2 linked regions of the Homo sapiens genome follow. The protein of the gene in region 1 interacts with the protein of each later gene in a pairwise test. Each region holds a gene or a part of one and is shown on either strand. Other genes may lie near its edges.

Evidence for each region. The genes of interacting proteins can lie anywhere in the genome.
Region 2: the proteins of FHL5 (region 1) and HOXB9 interact in binary tests that used the Homo sapiens proteins (3 or more experiments, as listed by UniProt).

What each region holds. Positions count from the first base shown.
Region 1 is NC_000006.12:96,606,950-96,615,980, reverse strand, and holds part of FHL5 (four and a half LIM domains protein 5), read right to left. Parts: intron 5,410-9,031; coding exon 5,223-5,409; intron 373-5,222; coding exon 209-372; 3' UTR 1-208. UniProt on the Homo sapiens protein: May be involved in the regulation of spermatogenesis. Stimulates CREM transcriptional activity in a phosphorylation-independent manner.
Region 2 is NC_000017.11:48,620,656-48,623,358, forward strand, and holds the end of HOXB9 (homeobox protein Hox-B9), read right to left. Parts: intron 2,481-2,703; coding exon 2,245-2,480; 3' UTR 501-2,244; downstream 1-500. UniProt on the Homo sapiens protein: Sequence-specific transcription factor which is part of a developmental regulatory system that provides cells with specific positional identities on the anterior-posterior axis.

The DNA of each region.
Region 1 (9,031 bases):
TCTTTGTGATTTAGCATATATTCATTTCTGTTCTACTGTGCTTTTTGTGTGCTTAGAATATAGTTCGATCAAAATGTGTGCAAAAACTTTTCCACTCTAAACTACATGAATATTTTCTAAAACTTAAGTCAAAAATAAGACCGCAACTGAGTTCTGGCTTTAGTGACAACGAAGGCAAAATGGATTTTAGGTGGGCAAGGACTGTCTCCTAGATGTCAGTGTCCATTCCGGAGCCACATTTTTGGCAGAAGATTTCCTTGTTCTGGGTCAGGAAGCCTTTACCCACCAAGGAGACAGAGCATTTCCCGCAGTTAAAGCATTCGCTATGCCACTGGCTGTCTTGAAAGCAGATAAACTTGGCACCTGTGAGACCTGTAAAGGAATTGGAGAAAAAGATTAATCTATCCTTTCAAGGAACAGATTGAGCATTCTAGCAGATGCTCCTCTAGGAACTGGAGATAGAGCTATGAGCAAAACAACGCAGAGGCAAATAACCCAAAAAAGAATGCTGCTTCCTGGCCCTGTGTCCATCTGGAACTATCCACTGTAGGAAAGTTACACCTATGCCACCCAACCAGATTCACAGCCAAATTCTGCCATAATCAACAGAAGAAGGCAGAATGCTAATATGCAAGTCAGGTATTTTTGGAAACAGATAAGGTTGTCTAAGCCAGATAAGACAATACAGTGTAGCATAGTGGAAAGAAGGTATAGGTTGTGAAGTCAGAGATATCTAAGTATGAATACATTTCCCCTTTTTCTCTATATGACTTTAAGTTTTCTTAGCTGCAAAATGAAGATAAAAGGAAATAAATGTATGCTTCCTAGTTTGATGTCCAATGTTGTAATGAGTTTTAGTTTTCTTCTTTCCCCTCATTTTTCTGTGCTTAGTTGTACTTAGAATATGTCCTGGGGTTATACGGTTTGGGACACTATTTCTAGAAAGCATAACCAAATAGAGGATTTTGTCTAATCATTCAGCCATCCTAACGTGATGGCCTTATTACCTTGCTCAGAGCCAGCTTCAGCTTTTGTTGAATCTGGCCAATGAAGCCACGTTATCACGTGATTGGTTTCTAAGAGCTTTGTCAGCCTCCTCCACTTTAACTTGGGCCTCACTTGAACCATACTGTTTCTTTAAAAAGTAGTCGAATTTGAATCTTCGGTGAGGGTCTGATCTCTGTCTCCTTAATGTGATTCCAGGGTATAGTTCAAGAAATTGATTTTGAGAAGTTACATTAAAGGAGAAAATGTTAGGGTTTGGGAAGAGGTTGAGATGCCCTAGGCTTGGGTCTTTATTTATTTCATGTTTTCTCCCAGTAATCTTAGTGCTATTATTTGCTTATCATCCATGGAGTGAGGCTAAAAGAGTTATGTAATTCATATGTAATTTCCAAATACTCCATTTGGAATGGTGAAGTGAAAGGGTGAATAGCATTCTATTTCAGATACATTCTTCTTAAATAGGATAATGAACTTTTGTTTCCATCCTAACAAACTTATTTGATGTCTTCATATATAATTTAGTAGTTCATACAGAAAATTGCATCAAATTTCTCTACTTTCCTTGATTAAATTTATAGCTTGCTTATCTATGATGCTATCAACATTACTTCCTAATAAATGTAAATTAATTATGTACTACTTAATTCCCTTAATGTTATTCAAAACATTAATAAGCTGACTGCAAGAGTAATGTTCTGTATATACATAAATTATGCTGTTCATAAAACTAATTATTACATGTCTAGCATTTTGATGCTCATGAGTTTTTCTTAATTTTATTAGTAAGCCTTGTACAAGTGGCAAATATAAAAGCAATTCTTCCGGAATTTTACAAATAAGAAAAAGTAGAAGCATCTGGCAACTTTAAGAAAGGGCTGAACCAACATGTGAGATGTATGTAAACTGTTCCAAAAGGAATATGTTTACTCCCTTAGGTCATGAGGGTTGTTTGCAGTAAGAAAGCCATTCATGAAGCAGGTCTTTGACACCTGTGTTATCTGGTTTCATAGGTTTCTGACAAGTCAGTAGAATAAGAGCTGGCATTTGTTGAGTGCTTGACTGTGTGCCAATTACTATTCTAAGTCCTTTATGTGTGTTACCGTATACAGCCCTCACCTTACCTTCATGGGGTCAGATATTAGCATCAGCCCCACTTTGCAGACAAAAACTGAGAAGTGAGAAGTTTAACCGCTTGCCCCAGGTCACCCAGCTAGTAAGCAGCAGATCTAAGATTTAAGCACAGGCCAGGGCCATCTGTCTTTAGAGTCTCTGCTTTTAACCTCATGAAACTAAGTTTGAGTTTATCTTTGGTAAAGAATATGATCAGGAACATCAGCATCACTCTCTGAAGAAGCCACAACATTTGAAATTCCTTTTCCTTGAAATAAACAGAGATGGAAGAAAGCCAACCTGCTCAACTGCTTGTTTTATAAATAAGGCAAATGAAGGCCCCCCACCCCTGAGGTGAGTTAGTCACCCATGGTGACACAGCAGTGGGGGCAGGGAGGACCAAGTCTTTTGCTCCTCAGTCCAGAGCACCTTTCACTGCATCAAGCAGCTTCATTTATCCCTGATAGTTTAAGAGGTTAATCCTATCTCAAAGGAGGAGAAAATATGGTAGCTATATCTGGAGTTTGTTCAAATGAAGCAGTTCAATGTGATGGGTTTTAAAAATTACACTTGGTGATTTATGGGTAGATTTCTCAGAGCTTTTTAAAAAAATAATTGATTAATCTTAATTGACAAATAAAAATTGTACATATATTATATAACATGTTTTTGTATATGTATGCATTGTGGAATGGCTAAATCAAGGCAATTAACATATCTATTACCTTATCATATGCTTTTTTGTGTGTGTGGTGAGAACATTTAAAAATCTATTCTCTTAGCAATTTTCAAGTATATAATACATAGTTGTTAACTATAGTCACTATGTTGTACAATAGATCTTGAAATTATTTCCCCTGTTTAACTGAAATTGTGTATCCTTTGACCAAGAATACCTAGCTTTTAAAGTGACATAATAATCAGATTAATGCCAATTTTCCGAAGACGTGTGACAATATCAGAATTCCCAATGGTACATCAGTTCAAATAGCTCAATTTTAAAGAAGCAGTACTTCAGGGCCTATAGATATTTAACAATTAGATGAAGAAATAGTAAAGTGAGTTGTAAGTTTTTGCAGGCATTTCAGCCTCTGGTGTCTCAATCACAAAGTTAAAAAAAAGATTAAGATAGTTATTAGACATTTCCTGTGGACTGATGAGTCTAAATTAAATATATAATATTTAGATTACTTTTGGGTAAAATTTAGATTACTTTTGGGTCAGATTATTTACTTTTGATCATCCTCATGTTTTTGTGCAGAACAACGTTGTTTTTCCATCTCAACTTTAAAAAGCTGGGCCCAGTGATTGATCTGGAACAATCTATGAAAAAAATCACTTAGGCACATGAATCTGTGATATACCAGAATTGAAACTCAAGTTCAGGGCTTGTGTAGGCTTTTTGCAGATCAGTATTAGCCATCTGGATCTCCAGAGAATTTTGAAACTTATTTTGAGTTGTTAATTTCCTTATTTTCTCATTGAAGTCCCCTTTTTTTTTCTGTCCCAATTCAAGATAAGTGTTGTTATAAAATAAATGGACTGTGATTGCAGATTTTACTTGGGAGATTCTGGAGCTCCAGGTATTGTTGGATATCTGAAAGTCCCATTTTCTAACTAAAATCAGTGGAGATCTCTTGGCTATAGGAATTGTCAAATTTGTAGAAGGCAGGAGAGCAGGGTAATTAAAAGCATGGACCCTGGAGCCGAGTGGTGTGGGATTGCTAAGGCAAGTTCTTGCAAGGGCCAGGGAGGTGATCTAGCTGAGTGATGCAGACAGGGTGCAAGGGACAGAGAGGGCATGCCCCATGCAATTGGACAGCCACGAGTTCCATATGATGGTGACCCTGCTGGGGAATGTGGAGGCAGTCTGCTCACCCAATGGCAGGCTCTTCCTCTACTTTTAGCTGCAGAGATGGATTTTACATTAGTTATTTCCAAACATGTTCAGGCCAAACATCAACAGCCTGCTTGCCAGATGTAGCCCGTGAGCCAGTGTGAGATCCTGACACAGATGGTGCTCCATATAGACAAATAAGACCATGCTGTTTTTTTCTGGTGACACCCTCCCTCCCTTTGCAAGTCAGTGAAAGCCTGCCAAGGTGGGGTTTGCTGTGAAACTTTTTCTTTTGGTTGGAAAGTGCATGAAGACTCAACTTTTATTTTGCCACATATTTGAAGATGAAGAAGGAGGAAAGGGATAAAATGATCTTTAATTCTATGGTATATGAACAACTAAAAATTGAAATATGTTCTAAGAATACTAGGAATAGAAAGTAGATATACAGTTCTGACACATTATTAAGTGATTATAAATTGCCAGAAAGAATAGCTGCTGAGTTTCTCAAGTGTCATGCTAGTTTCAGTTCCTTTATTATAGGATTAGCATTTTAAAAGTGTCTCTGAGGAAAAGATGTATTTCTTTTTACCTTGAAAACCTCTTTAACATGGATTGATTTATCATTATGTTATTTTCAAATCATGTCACATTTTTTTTTCAGTAAAATGCTATCTTGTTTTCTTTCATCTACTCATAAACACACTTCATAATTGCAAGTGAATAGAGAAAAGAGAGTAATACATTTGTTAGAAGCATCTTAAAATGAAGTTTAATTAATTACTGACCTATGCTACCTTAATTATTACAGCTTCAGATGTTCTATACAATAGTGGAATTTAATTAAAACCTTCCTAACTAAAGGATGCTTGGTCCTATTTTAGAATTAAGCAGGATTTTGATTTATTAGTACTCTTCTCCTCCCACTCAAAACTTAATGAGGCTGCAAGCAGATCTCCTCGTGAAGGCCTGCACTAACCTCTCAGCTCATCCTGTTCTCCTCCTTCCTTGAATGTTAGAGTCAGTACCATTAGGTTTAGTATGTAGTTACCTTCACAGAGTATAGTCACCCAAATTATACTCTTGTACTTTCCTTGAGGAATCCATGTAATATTTATACTCATATATATGCACCCACTTGTGTTTATCTCAAAAGGAAATATAAAGGAAAGCTTCCCATTTTTTAATTGCTTTTCCTAAATTAACTAGATAGTGTTTCATAAAGTCATAACTGTCTCATGGCATGATCATATTGAACTGAAGAACTCACCACTAATGGGTTTGGAACAGGCTACACACTTGTTGGCATAAAGATGGTTGTAGCAGTCCACGCAGAATGGATAGTCGTCTCTGGACATGAACTGTTCTTCACAGAGATCTTTCCTACAGCCACTACACAGAAAACACTCTTTATGCCATAGCTGGTCACAAAATGTTATCCCACCTGAAGTTATCACCTGCCAAAGACCACAGAAAAGGCAATGACCATGGGAGCCATTACAATTCAGATCATTTCATGATTCTTTTGAGATCCTAGTATCTCTGGGGAGAAAAGGAAGCAAAAAGAAAAAAAAAAGATCATTTCATGTCTTCTATGCCACAACTGGTGCTTTTGGCTACTCTATTTTCACCTTATGTTAGGATGTTCTTTTCCTCAAAAAGTCATTAAAAATTAATAATATGAGAAGCCAAAGGCTATAGGAATTAATTAGAAGTAGAAAGAAATGGAAATTATTGTATATTTTTCTCCTACAATGAAATAGAACAGAGGCAGGGCCATATTGGACTCAGGAAGATGGGGGAGAAAAACCACACAGGTTCTTTTTTCACTTCCTCATACTTCTCTGAATTTTCTTAATTTTGGTTTTTAAAGATCTGCCGTTAGAGCTATTTTCTATACTATGTTCTTATAACTACCTGTCTAACTTTAGGGATGCTTAAAAGAATTCTTCTTTTTCCTGAATGCTTTACACCAGGTCCAAGAATATCCAACAGCAGTAATTCTGAATGGAATTGGTAAGCACCATTATTTGCTAATAACAACTACCATTTCTTAAGTGTTTTTTCAGTCCTTACCACCGTGCTAAGGATGATCTCTTCTGAATATTCTCAACACCTCTACATACTACAGACTATTATCTTTCCCTCTTTTCAGATGAGCAACTAGTGAGGGTTACAGTCATTAAGTTACTTGCCATGGCCATAGTGAGCTAGGATTCAAACCTGCATGGTCTGATTCCACAGCCTGTGTGCATCACCATCAGTGCCATACTGAGTCAAGGTTACCTTACACAGATAAGCAGTTGAAAATCCTTGTTGAATGAATGAATAAATGCCAAAGGAAAAAATAGTTGGAAAGCAATTCCAATATTGTATCTAGCAGTGGGGTGCTGTGGGAATTAGAACTCAATGGAATAAGCCCTGGTTGTACATTGAGCCTTAAGGTGTGATGTGCAGTGTTTTGCCTGAGATGTAATTAGTTCTGCATAAGATAATATTTTCTTTCTAAACCAATTTAATCCATGAATTCTACTTTTTAAAAGGCTGAGAAATCTTTAGTTAGAATCAGATGGATAAATCTTGGGCATTTTTTCTCATGTAACTATTTTTAAGCCACATCACCTTTTGAATTCACAGCTAATGAGCTCTTAGAATTGCTGTAGATACTGGAATGTGTTTTTGTAAGTGTTTTATAATGACTGAAGCAATGGGGTATCTGAGGTGGTTCCTATAACCTTTGTATCAAATTAACTAGGTAGTAAAAACTTAGAGCCTATTTTAAGCCGCCTCGTTGTTTACGAACTCAAAAATGTTATTTGTCTGTTACATAGACTTGTGAAAAAATTATTCTAAAGGTATTTTTAATCTTATAACAAATATCTTAGAAATTAAAGATATTTGATATGAAAGATATTTTCCTAGAGGGAAAAAAGCATACTATTCTGAATAAGTAAATGGGAAGCATAATGTTGTGATGGAAGTAAAGCAATTTAAAATACCTCCTACTGACTTCCAATGCCTTACAGCAGACACAGCAGAATTCATGATTCCTTTGATTTGTTTGGTCTGATGATTAGCAGGCAATGCTTAAAAGATCTGAAACTTGAAAAATGTATTCACAGCAAAATAAAACTTGATATATACACCAAAGACTGTTTAATTAGAGAGAAGAAATTCTGGAACATCAAAAATAGTTTGCTTGTGATTATATTCCTTTTGAAGAGGTAGGAAGGTAAGATAAAGTCTAATATCTAAGCTTGGTTTTCACCACTGATTGATCTCAGGATTTAGAACAAGTTTGTTCTGTGAAAAAGTGGGGGCAATAATGATTTTGCACTCATTATGTGACAGATGAAAAATCGAAGAAGACGTTTAACTCCTTTTGAACCTTGAGGAGTTTGAATTTGAAGCACTTGTAGTTTAAAATCATTTGCTTTCTGGCAGAAAATAAATCTTAGTTTAACAAAATAAAATCTATGGATTTTAAAGCTTAAAAGTTCTAACAGCCTGGTTGTCAAGTAGTTTTTCCTTTTTTTAAGAAAATATTTGGTCTTTGGTTTGGGTTGAAAAAAATTGTTTAGATTGGATCATCTTGATCAAAAACAAATCTAGCTTTTTAGAAAAGGACTTGTGGTTTTAAAAACTAAATAAAAAATAATCTGGCATGTCATAATCTGTCTACTACCCAATATAAATATTTTGTAAATTTTTGATGACTTCAAATCATATCCTAAATATAGTTACAGGCTCCAATAACCTGGGAAACATCAGCACTTGGCCCAGACAGTGCTCAGCATGGATGTACTAAAGAAGTTTCACTCTTGAATTGTTATAGCATTGAAAGAGTCTTCATTATTGTGTCTGATAAATGATTTTAGGATAATTCTCACAAATATCATTACTGTTTTAGTCTGTCTTTAAGAAATGCAGCCTAAAATTGGCCAACTCAGTTGTCTCTCAAAACAGTGAGATAAACCTATTCATTTTATTTCCAGCAAGATTTTATTTTCTTTAGTTTTTAAGTTTTGTATATTTTTTAGAGATAGGATCTCATTGTCACCCAGGCTGGAGTACAGTGGCTCAATCATAGCTCACTGCAGCCTTGAATTTCTGGGCCCAAGTGATCCTCCTGCCTCAGCCACCCAAGTAGCTGGGACTACAGGCACGTGTCACCATACTTGGCTAATTTTTAAACTTTTTTTTTTTTTTATACAGACAGGGTGTCACTATGTTGCCCAGGCTGGTCTTGAACTCCTGGCCTCAGGCAATCTTCCCACCTTGGCTTTCCAAAGTGTTGGGATTACAGACGTGAGCCACCATGCCCAGCTCCAGCATGTTTTTAAATGCCGTCATTGACCCTGGTAATTCTTTGGAGCTTCATATGTCATATGGCTTGATTGCTGCTTGTAAAGTCACCTTCTAAGCCAGTGTTTTGGTAGAGTAATGAAGGTCTCAGTCATAAGATTATTTTATGTCATGTGATCAATTGTAATTCTCAGCCATCAACATAGTGTAATTTAATAATGATAACTTAGCATAGTGTATTGCTGCCTCTTTAAATGCAGTAGTGGTATTGGTTATGTATGTTAAACAGTTAACTGCGTGTGTGTGTGTGTGTGTGTATGTGCATGTGTGTTCACATATGTGTGCATAGAAAGTGGTAGTGTGACTTCCAGCTGTCCAGATATACAAATGGGCTTAAGAGTTCTGCCAAAGTAACCCACAGATAAAAAATACTTTGAAACCACTATACTAATCCAATGTATTTTCATGATTCAGCTTTCTCATGACAATTTATGGTGTCATTTTAAACTTATGATGCCTCGCAGGTCAAGGATTTCTTTGAGAACCTCCATATATATTTTATGGAATGCAGACAGGCTTCATCAAGGTGTTAGAGCTACTTTTTCACATAAAAGCTTAGAGGATAAAAAAAGAATTGGATGAAGTTTACTTCAAAAATATTACTTTTTTTTTCTCTTAGAAAATGTTTTTTTTGAGTGGGAAGCCAAGTCAGAAGGCCCTACATGATCCTGGAACTGGAGTGAAGGAACTTGCTGCTCTTAGTCTTCTTTCTGT
Region 2 (2,703 bases), on another chromosome or scaffold:
CCTCTGTCTAGACCTAGGCACCCTACTGCAGGGAAGAACAGAGGGAAATTACTGTGTTCCTCCCTTGCATCATATTTTAAAGCGGCCAAACTAAGGTGACATTCTCAGTGGCTGAGGGAGGAGAGCTACCCCCAGGAGGTGCAGGAAGACCTACCTTCCCTCCTATTCTCTAGTCAATGAGGAGGTTTCAGGACCTCATTGCTCCCCAGACCCTGTGCCCTCTCCAAACAACCCACATTTCCTTCCCTCCCCGCTCGTTTTCCAGTTCTCCTGTTGGAAGGCTCTTGATCAGTTTAACCAGTAGTCTTGGGACCTGGGGTCTGGGACTGGCTCTCAGCTCCACCTCTAGAGAGCTCTGCAGGGGACCTTGCCCTGCAGGGTGTAAGGAGAAACCTCCTGGACTCAGCAATCTTTTTTTTTCCAAGCCTTTCTCCCGACAACTGGGATCTCTACCTATGGTCAGGCCCAGAGAGCCAACACAGAATAAGACACAGGAGAGATTTATTTTCTAGAGTGATATATATTTTTTGTTCTTTTTCTTTTTTTCTTCCAAAACAAACAATTAGAGCTCTAGGCCCCTCGCCCTCCCCACTCCCACCCAGAACCCTCCCATATAATCGACAACTGAAAACAAGCGAGACAATCACCCCCAAAGAAATCACGAAACACAAGCACAATTTCACGACAGCCACCGACAAAGCAAAAAACTTCTACTGGAATGTCCCCTTGCAGGATCAGGAGAAGCAGGAGCAAGAGTCTACAAATTGAAGGGGACTGAGAAGTAGGGGAGCAGGGGGAGGAACGGAAGCAGAGAGTAAGCTTCCATCTGATGCTTAGGTGCCATTTTGCCCCTTTCCTTTGCACGCGGGACTGTTTCCCAGAAGCGCGCGCACGCACCAGCCACGCAGATCTGCATCCAGGCCCATGAAGCAGGAGGCCAAGCCCGGCCCTGGGGCGGGTCTCCTTTGGCGCTGGGGCTAGAGCCGCCAAGCCCGGGGCTTCTCTGCGTGGGTCGAGAAGCCGACGGGATTCGGAGGAACGCGCAGAGCGTTGCGCGCTGGGGCCGTTGCTCCTCCCTGTCCCAGACCACTTGTCCCGGAAGGGAGCTTGGGAATCGATTCACAATAAATTCTCATTCGGACTCTCCTGGCCTGGCTTTCCTGTCTACAGTGGGGTTGACCTAGCGGGGAACGGAAGGTGGAGGGATTTTTCTACAAGGGGCGGCTTGACTTGCGGGTGCAAGGTGGATACGACCGAAGAGAGTTGATTTCAGAGCTAGGGAGGGTGCGGAAGAATGCAGGGCCGGTCGAGAGCAAGAGAAGCTACAGTCTGTCAAGTGGTGCACAGATGAACAGGAGGACAACATTGTCAAGGCTCTACGACCCACAGTTTGACCTTCTTTTGTTGGAAGGAGAGGGAAACATCATGCGGAATTAAACATTTCCTGCAACAAAATGTATATGTTGGTGGGAGGTGGGGAGTAGCTCCACCTAAGATAGCTTCATAAAACCACGTGCTGCCTTTTCTTGTACTTTCTAGCCCACCGGCTTGGGGGCTAGGTTTGCTCCATCTTCCCCATGGCCCTTGGCCTGAGAATAGTTGGCAACTCCATGGGAATGGTATGGCAATGCTGCAGCCTTTGGGCTGCAACACCTCACTCAGGAGTCTGCCTCTAGACATCTCCCTGGTGGGTATTTGCATTAGGGGTAGAACCCGGGCTTGCCTGACAGTCTGAGGGCTGTTTTGCCAAATTTGGTGTGCGATGGTCTGCAACTGGAGTGTCACCTCACTTGACTGAATGGTGGTTGTGAGCTCACCCCATTACTGTGTGTGGATGTCTGCTGAGCTGTGTAGAGTTGGAGTGTCCCTGGGTGACTTTTGGGTGGGTGTAGAGAAGAAACAGGCAAGCTGGAAGTGAGGGGCTAGGACTTCCCAGAAAAATTACAGGGCATACTAGGAGCTTGACTGGGGTCTCTCTTTCCTTGTGGCCCATCACATTCTTAGGAACCAACTATTTCTATCTTCTAAATCAACAAAACTTTCTCCTGACACCTAGAGAGAAGAGAGAGACAGGTAAGGGCAAAGGAAAGGAGGGAGGTTCTAGGTGCAGATAAAGGACTTGGAAGAGAGACTCCCTTCCCCATTCACTTGAATACATCCCAGACAGCACTGGCTTTGCAGTCGTCACATAACTAAGAGTGAGATGGGGAAGAGCTAGGGAGGACTGGGGGTAATCTTTAATCTTTACTCTTTGCCCTGCTCCTTATTCATTTTCTTCATTTTCATCCGCCGGTTCTGAAACCAGATTTTGACTTGTCTCTCACTCAGATTGAGGAGTCTGGCCACTTCGTGCCTACGGTCCCTGGTGAGGTACATATTGAACAGAAACTCCTTCTCTAGCTCCAGCGTCTGGTATTTGGTGTAGGGACAGCGCTTTTTCCGGGAAGAGCGAGCGTGCAGCCAGTTGGCGGAGGGGTTGGCTGAAAGAGAAGCAGCGATAGAATCAAAGAAAGGAAGGGGGTGAAGGGCCCCAGATCAAGAGGGCACTCCCTTGGTCTCCACTCCCCATCTTGCACTGGAGAAGAGGCCACCTGGGTCTTCAAGCTCCCAGGAAGGGTGTCACAGATGGGCCAGCCATTGCTATAGACACCTCCAGGTGAGAGGCTGTGTGGAAAGGATGGAGCCAAACGTGGGCCCAGGCTT